3 separate regions of the Homo sapiens genome follow, and all the other regions are linked to region 1. The links come from fine-mapping of genetic effects on gene expression. A gene starts in region 1. Each other region holds a variant in brackets. All regions are shown on one strand. Distances are between the middles of the regions. Region 1 holds the start of WDTC1 (WD and tetratricopeptide repeats 1). Region 2 overlaps TMEM222 (transmembrane protein 222). Region 3 overlaps WDTC1 (WD and tetratricopeptide repeats 1).

Region 1 (2,754 bases):
GCCTGAACCTGGGGAGCTGCAGATAGATGATCTCAAAGCTTTCTTCTAGTCCCAAAGTCTATGATTTTTTATATTCAGTAGAACAGCTGTGGTGGAGAGTTCAGGGGGAATGACCCACAATATTTTTAGGAGAAAGGCATAAAAGGCTTTGTGAGCGGTTTCACAAGGATAGGTTCTTACTCCTCTAAATGGGGAGAAATCTCCCTTGCGGAGAAATCACCAGCAATTAGAATACTACCTTTGTCTCTGGGAGTATTCAGGTATTCACAGACAAATTCGTACTCATGATGTGAGCAGAATTGGAAAAAAAAAAAAAAAAAAAAAAAAAAAACAAGCGACACATGGAGTGATAAACACTATAAATGCCAAATACATATATTCAGTCCTTACTGAGAGCGGGTGCTGTCTGGTTTTCACAGGAAAGACAGGCAGTGTTAAAAGGCTCAGACTCTGGTGTCAGGCAGATCTGGGTCTAATTCCCAATTTGCCAACTTATCAGGACCCCGGGGGCAAGTTGCTTTTAGCCTTTCTGCTTCAGCTTTCCTTTTCTGCAAAACACAGACAGCAATAGTACCTAGCTAAGAGACTGTACCCAATCCAGTGCGAATAAAAGTGAATTATTGTTAGTATCTGACAAATGGCACCCTATGGGTGACAAGTTTCCTTTGTCAGAAGGTGACACGTCTTCCCTTTCTGACTTGAGGTTTCACGGGTGGGGCCTGGTCTCTGCCTTAAGAAGATAGGCTTAGTGCCACCCTTGTCACCTTGGGAACTTCCTTAATAAAGAGGAGGGTCTCTCCTCCATCAGACCCGGGACTCCACAAGGCTGGAACTGCGTCTCTTCCTCAGAGGTGGGAGCAGCAGTGACTCCGCTAGGGTCAGATGGACCTAGTCGCTCCCATCACCCCGAGGGCACCCAGAGTGTGTGTGGCTGACTCCTCTCCAGGCTACTCAGCGTAGGCCCGATTCTCTTTCATTCTCTTCCTTAAGGCCCAGGAGACGTCAGTGAGGACTGTGCCACTTCAGCAGCCCCCCAGAGCAGGAAGGAGTGGGCTGAGGAGCCCCCCGGGGCCCTAGCCTGAGAGGTCCCAGAATTCGGGGGCTGAGAGGAAGTCTTAGGAGCTCTTAAGGGGCTGTGAGGGGACCTGGGGTTCAGTGGGCGAGCGTGTGGGCGGGTGTCCCAGAAGCGGTGTGAGGAGCGTTTTACCCGGTGGTGGGGTGGGAGGTGCGTCCGGGTAACTAATGGCAACCGGGCGGGGTGAGCCCGCTCTGCAGGAACTCCTCGACGGCGAAAAACTACGACTCCCAGGGTGCCCCAGGGCTTAGCCCAGCTTTCCCGCCCGCCCACTGGCTGCCGGTCCCGCAAGCGGCGAAGCCCATTGGCCACGGCGGTGCGGGGCTCCCCCACTAGCAGGTTAGTGGGCGCCGCCGGCAGCAGACGTTGACCGGGCGCGGGGGGGTAAGTGGGGGGGCCCGGCTAGCCATTCTGGAAGCGGCCGGGCGCAGTCTTCGTAGCGTACCCGCCGGCTGCGAGGCGCAGGGCGGAGGCGGAGACTGCGTGGCGCAGGCGCGTTGCTGGGCTTCTCCTGGGTCCCCAGACAGCTGGAGGAGATAAACAGAGGAGGAGGAGGGAGGGGAGTGCGTGTGTGAGAGCGCGCGAGGGAGTGTGAGTGTGTGTGAGCGCGGGTGTGAGGCGGTGCGCAGGGGCGGGCGGAGGCGCTGTCCGGCCCCGGCCAGGCGCCGGGCGGGGAGCATGGGAAGGGGCTAGAACTGCTCGAGCCCCCCAGCCCCCTCCCCGGGATCCGCGCCCCCCTTCCCGGGAGAGGGGCCGCCCCCCCCGGACGGACATGGGCTCCTGAAGTTGCGCCGCTGCCGGTCGGGGGAAGAGACCTGACAGGTACGGGTCACCGCCGCCCCCTGCCCTCCGCGGGCGCCGAGGCGGGGACCGGCTCCCGCAGCCCCGGTGAACGGGCCGCCCGCTCTGGGCCGGCTCCAGCCCTGCCGGCCTGGGGGCCTGAGCCTACCCGCCTCGGGGCCCCGGGTGTCCCGAGAGGGGCCAGGCCTCGCCGGGGCGGAGGGCAGAGTGGTCCGGGGGCGGGGTGGGGGCGGAGGGTTTGGTCGGGACGCGGGGGGAGGCTGTGGGAGTCCGGGGAGGCTCTGCGGAGGGAGAGGTGGAAGTCATTCCATCATGGGACTTTTTTGCGGAGTTTTTGTTTGACATCTGATCTGGCGCCGGAGTCAGGAAGAAGGGGCAGGTGTAAGTGCTGGGAGGGCAACGCCGACCTGACCTGCCCTCTTAGCTTCTCGCTCTCTCTCTTTCTGTTTTTCTCTCTCTCTTTCTGTGTGTGTGTGTGTGTGTGTGTGTGTGTGTGTGTGTGTGTGTCCACAGCAGATGCCTTCAGTGGCCCATCCTGGCACCAAACAACTCTGCCAAGGTGTTTCCACCAGGCGACTGTAGCACCCCGTATACAAAGGGCCTCTGCTTGGGAACGGGCTATTCAGTACCCACTTCAAAGGGTAAATAGGAAGTGAGGAGATAGAAGAGAGACTGCGAACCAGCAGGATCCACTTCTTGGACTGAAAGCCGCAGTGGGACGCCCCTTTGCCAGATTGGTTGACTTTGCTTGGTGGCTTGGGCTCTCTCTCCTCTGCGGGTGTACTCCCAGGGTTTCTAGAGGAGAGGTACAGGGGCCTGTAACTAATGTCTTAATAGCCGAATTTGACTGTTTTCCCCAGAGTTCTTTTCTTCTGTGA
Region 2 (2,754 bases), 97 kb after region 1:
AGCAGTGAATGAGAGCTCTGGTTGTCCCTTGCCCTCACCTGCATTGGTGTTGCTGTCGTTTGAGTTACAGCCATCCTGGCGGGATGCTGAGGTATCCCATTGTGCTGTCGGTTTGCAGTTACCCTTGTCTGTGCTTCCCCAGCCTTCTGGACCACCCTAATGGCCACCTGTCAATGAAACGTAATATTCACATGCTTCTGTACTGTATGAAGGGTCCCCAGCGTCCGTCTAACTGGCTGAAAGATCCCCTAAGCTCTGTCCCTTCCCCGTCCTTTTCCTCACAGGTGGTTTTTCCCCATCATCGGCCACATGGGCATCTGCACATCCACAGGAGTCATTCGGGACTTCGCGGGCCCCTACTTTGTCTCAGTGAGTCCCCATTCTGCCCACCCGGGGGGTTCCAAGGTTTAAGTGGAAGGCTGTCCTGTCTTGCCTGCAGGCAGGCTTCGTCTCCCCAGACCCAGGAGAACGTAGATAACCCGCAGTCCTGGCCCTGGCCCTCTGCCCCTCACCAGTGTTTGACCCCTTTCCCCCTTCTCTTGCCTCCAGGACAGGCCGGGAGGGCAGTGTGGCCAGAAGGATTCTTAAGTAACTGACCCAGCCCTTTGCCCCCACCCCTGGGGTACCGAGACATGGGTAGGGATTAGAGGCAAGAGTGGAGAGTCAGACCATCCAGGAACCACATCTCTGGACCTTCAGAAGGTGGGAGTCAAGGTGGGGGGACACGGGAGGCTGATTCGGTTCCCTGGGTGTGGCCATGGAGAAGAGGGGGTGGGGCTTTAGAATGAAGCAGCTGTGTTCTCAGGTCTGTTCCCTGGGGCTGTGACCAAGACTGGTCCAGTGGGCTAGCAGCAGAGGAGCATGCATCATCCTGTCTCCAGGTGTCAGAGGCTGGACTGAAGGGGTGTGGTGGCACCAACCTGTTTATATTAATAGTTGTCATGATCATCTTAACACGACAAAGGTCTGTCACTTTGTACTTAAAAATACTTTCACATCCATTACTTTATCATATATTTTTATGGTGATTAATCATTGACCAGGTCTGTCAGCAGGGTCTCCCTGATCTGAACCCAGAGTCTGTCTCTGTGTAAGTCCTGTACCCCAGGAATAATGTGATGAGTCTAGGACTTCACTGCAGTGTCTCCCTCACAGGAAGTCCCTCTGGGCCCAGCGCCCCCGCCCTGCTATGAATGCAGTCAGACTGCTGGGCGAGGAGATGGTCTCCATGTGGGCCACCACTGTTGAGTCAGGAGGCCAGACCATGATGGAAACCTCCTGCTGGTCCTCAGAGATCAGAGAAGACTGACCAGAGAACTTGGAGAAAATGAGGCCCAGAGAGGGCAAGAGAATTCCTGGGTGCCACACCAAGGGACAGTGGCAGCTGGAGCCCCAGATCTTTGGTCTCTGATGCAGTGCTCTGTGCACTTGTGCCACACTG[CCTT/C]CTTCCTGCAGAACAGCTGCTAGCTCTTTAGATGCCATGCCAGCCCCAGGGCAGGGCCCAGGCCCCACTTCTGGCCCCCCCACCCCTGACATACCCTCTTCTAAGTCACTGCACTTCTGCCACCTACCCAGGTTTGTCATCTGGCCCAAATGTAAGTTCCTCACTGACCTCTGCTTTTGTCCCTCAACAGGAGGACAACATGGCCTTTGGAAAGCCTGCCAAGTAAGTGATGAACACCCATGTGACTGGCTCTAGAGGCAGGTCGCTCCTGCCGGGGCGGGCCAGGCCTTCTGGGGCACAGGAGGGGCCAGCACCCTGAGAATAGAGTATTTGGGGTCGGGGGAGAGGTCAGCCAGGGTCCACCAGAGCATGGCAACCCCATACAGAGTGTGTACCGCACCAGCCCCTGGCTAGGGCCTTTACCTGTAGACCATCTGGGCCTTGCCACAGCTCTTCAGGTTTGTATTTTCAACTCCATGGCAAGGGTGAGGAAAGGGAAGGGACTTGGTCAAGGTCACACAGGAAGTGGCAGAGCTGGGACCCACACCCAGATCTGTCTCCCTCTAGACTCACTCTCCTGCCCTTTGGGAACAAATGAGGCATGGAAGGTAGAAGAGAGGCATTGTTTGGAGCTCTGCTGGAAAGTTCTGGTTGGAGAGAATAAAAACCGTTCAACCTTCTGGGAGCTATTGCTGGTTTGGTTTGGGACATTTGGTCTTCATCTTTGCAGTCTCGGGTGCCCACCTCAGCTGTGGGCCTGGTGAGAGTGCCTCAGTCATCAGTGTCCTCAGGTGACCTGTTGCCCAAGGCTGCACTGGGAGGAGAGACTGGGCCGAGGAGGAGTTGGTGTCCCACACAGCTGAGATGGCCTGGAGCAGGGCTTCCTGCTGCCCTCTCTGGCTTCCTCCGGCAGGCAGCAGTGTAGTCCAGGAGTCTCTGGGCCACCAGGTGTTCGCTGCCAGACTGCTCTTCAAGGACAGTTTTAAGGGCATCATTTTCCAAGCAGTAGCCCCTAAGCGGCCCCAGTCCAGGCCATGGTCTCTAGACTCCTCCACCAAGCCATTCCCCTACACAACAGCCAGGGGGCGCCCTGACCTCCCAGCTCTCCTTGGCCTGAGACCCACCGGGCACTCTGGTGCTTGGAACAGCAATTCTCACCCACCTTGAGGTTTATGGGCTTTAGCACCATCAGCTTCCCTGCCACTCACCCTGGCAAGCTGCCTGGGAGACTAGGGGAGAGTGCTTGCTGCTGGGTAAACTCCCCGCGTGATGTGGCCTCACCTGCATCTCCAGCCTTAGCTGCCAGCATT
Region 3 (2,754 bases), 75 kb after region 1:
TGCTCCCCTGTCTCTTCTCCGTGACCTTTCTCTAGCCAGGGAGAAGGGAGAGCAGGAGTATTGGGGCTGGGCCCTGGGGCCCAAGGACCAGCTGGGTCCCCTTTGCTTTCTTGTGTTCCAGCCACCTGCCATTTCCTCCCTGCCTCCCACCCTCCCTCCCTGCCCCCTGTCCTGCTTCCCACCCCCTGCCTGCCCAGCCTGGGCCCTGCAGTGTGGAGAGACACATAAGCCTTACTGTCCTCTGGGGGCAGGAGCCGAGCCTTTTTGTTGCTCCGCTCCCAGGAGAGTGAGGGTGACGCAATTGATTAAAACCATTTTGTTCTAGGTGTGGCTGGTGGCATTTGTGGGGTGCAGATGGGTCTTGGAACCAAAGTGAGGGCACCTGGTCCCTCACCTCTGTAGCTCTATGACTTAGTAACCACACCTCTACTGGACAGAATGAGGCCTGCCTTGAAGGGTCACCGTGAGCAGCGGCCACCCAGCCCAGCAGGGCTGAGTGCAGAGCCCAGCTCTCATGGCTGTGATTTGTAATCATCAGCTTTCACTCTCTGGCTGTTTTCTCATCAGTAAAATAAGGGACTTGGAATCTTAGTGGTTTTTCAAACCATTTTACATTGTGACCCAATATACACATGATTACTTGTAGATATGTGTGTGTGTATATATATATAAAAAAAATGAACAAAAGTTTTACACAATAATATTTACCCTTGCTACATGCAGTGTACTCTGCTTACCCTTCTGTTTTATTAGGGAAAAAAATATGGCTATAACCCACTAAATTGATTTCACATATGCAAGTTTTTGAAGTGCCCTGGATTAGATAATCTCTTAGACTATAGGTTCCTGAACTTTCTTAGCTCACAGCACCATTACCATCTCAGTAATTTTTTCATGGAGCCTCTAAGCCAAAAGAAATAACAGTTCAATTTATTAAGTAGTTAAGTCCAAATCACTTAAAAAGTATTTATGTCCTAACAAGTTAGTTGCCATTTAAAAAATAATACACCTGAATTGGAAGAAACAATATTTATTTCATTCTTTTTTTTTTTTTTTTTTTTTGAGACGGAGTCTTGCTCTGTTGCCCAGGCTGGAGTGCAGTGGCATGATCTCAGCTCACTGCAACCACCGCCTCCCGGGTTCAAGTGATTCTCCTACCTCAGCCTCCCAAGTAGCTGGGATTACAGGCATGTGCCACCATGCCCAGCTATTTTTTTTTTTTTGCATTTTTATTTATTTTTTATTTTTT[A/AT]TTTTTTTTTTGAGACAGTTTCGTTTTTGTCGCCCAGGCTGGAGTGCAATTGTGCAATTGCGGCTCACTGCAACCTCCGCCTCCTGGGTTCAAGCGATTCTCCTGCCTCAGCCTCCCAAGTAGCTGGGATTACAGGTGCCCGCCACCACACCCAGCTAATTTTTTGTATTTTTAGCAGAGATGGGGTTTCACCACCTTGGCCAGGCTGGTCTCAAACTCCTGACCTCAGGTGATCTGCCCGCCTCAACCTCCCAAAGTGCTGGGATTACAGGTGTGAGCCACCGCGCCCAGCCTTCATTCTTAAACAACTGCAATTACTAATGGGATCTATGCTGCCCATTGGGCACTGAACAACTTGTTAAATTTTCTAATCAAAGCAAACACTGCTGCCTTCATTTCCTGTCCCACATTGATTTTCATTTGCTTTTTATCACAGCAACCACTAAAGACCCAGCTTCTTTTTTTTTTTTTTTTTTTTTTTTGAGGCGGAGTCTTGCTCTGTTGCCCAGGCTGGAGTGCAGTGGTGCGATTTCGGCTCACCGCAAGCTCCACCTTCTGAGTTCATGCCATTCTCCTGCCTCAGCCTCCTGAGTAGCTGGGACTACAGGCAGCTGCCACCAGACCTGGCTTATTTTTTATGTTTTTAGTAGAGATGGGGTTTCACCACGTTAGCCAAGATGGTCTCGCTCTCCTGACCTTGTGGTCCACCCGCCTCGGCCTCCCAAAGTGCTGGGATTACAGGCATGAGCCACTGCGCCCGGCCAAGACCCAGCTTCTTAAAGATGACATCATCAAAAGGATTGTGGCATAATGTAATAATGGAACTGTGAACTACCTTGAGCTAATAGTTCTCTCATTAGCCAAAGATGTTGAATATCTTTCAAAATATCCTACTTTGCCCCCTGTGAATTTGCTGTGGGTGCCCTCAGGCACCTTGATGCACAGTTGGGGAACTATGGTTTAGTCTGTGGGAATAGCAGTTCCACTACTGAAACTACTGAGAGGTCCTGCCGGAAACACAATAGGTGGTATTATAAAACAGATACTGTGGGCTGGTATCATTCCTCTGTGTACCCAAATTAACGTCTGCAGAAGCTTCTTGAAGGCATTTCCAGACCAGACAAAGGAAGGACAATGTTCCAGACCAGGGAGTAGTGCAGAGTCTCAGGTTCCTTCATGAACCCTGAGTGACTCCATCTGGCTGGATTGTAGAGGGTAGACTGGAGGAGCAGTCAAACTGAAGGACTTCCTATGGCTGGTGAGAGACCACAGACTCAATCCTGTAGGCAAGGGAGGCATTGGAAGACTTCACGAGGGTCTCCATTTCATTTGGAGTTGGTACTCCATTTTTTAAAAAATTAATAGCCTTTACTTTCTAGAGCAGTTTTAGGCTTACAGAAAATTGAGCAGATAGTATAATGAGTTTCATATAACCCTCTTTCCCCAGCTCAATTTTCCCAATTATTAACATCTTGCATTAGTGTGTTGTTGTAATTAATGAACCA

What was found. PIP is the estimated chance that this variant, and not a neighbour inherited with it, causes the effect.
Region 2: its variant is fine-mapped to the expression of WDTC1 in whole blood (TOPMed, PIP above 0.99).
Region 3: its variant is fine-mapped to the expression of WDTC1 in whole blood (INTERVAL, PIP above 0.99).

Annotation. Positions count from the first base shown.
Region 1 is chr1:27,233,055-27,235,808 of GRCh38, forward strand. WDTC1 (WD and tetratricopeptide repeats 1) reads left to right here and starts at 1,578. Exons shown (of 16, transcript NM_001276252.2): 1 at 1,578-1,897. It overlaps WDTC1-DT (WDTC1 divergent transcript), which reads right to left and starts at 1,375. Exons shown (of 3, transcript XR_947117.2): 1 at 1,208-1,375; 2 at 391-548. RefSeq lists silencers at 1,398-1,457, 1,658-1,807, 1,998-2,047, 2,208-2,257.
Region 2 is chr1:27,330,436-27,333,189 of GRCh38, forward strand. TMEM222 (transmembrane protein 222) reads left to right here. Exons shown (of 6, transcript NM_032125.3): 2 at 285-369; 3 at 1,635-1,666. Among named protein-coding and RNA genes, the nearest start is that of TMEM222, 9.6 kb to the left of the region's middle. The variant CCTT/C (reference allele first, on the strand shown) is at 1,442.
Region 3 is chr1:27,307,919-27,310,672 of GRCh38, forward strand. WDTC1 (WD and tetratricopeptide repeats 1) reads left to right here. Exons shown (of 16, transcript NM_001276252.2): 16 at 1-718. Among named protein-coding and RNA genes, the nearest start is that of TMEM222, 13 kb to the right of the region's middle. RefSeq lists enhancers at 1-389, 390-914. The variant A/AT (reference allele first, on the strand shown) is at 1,250.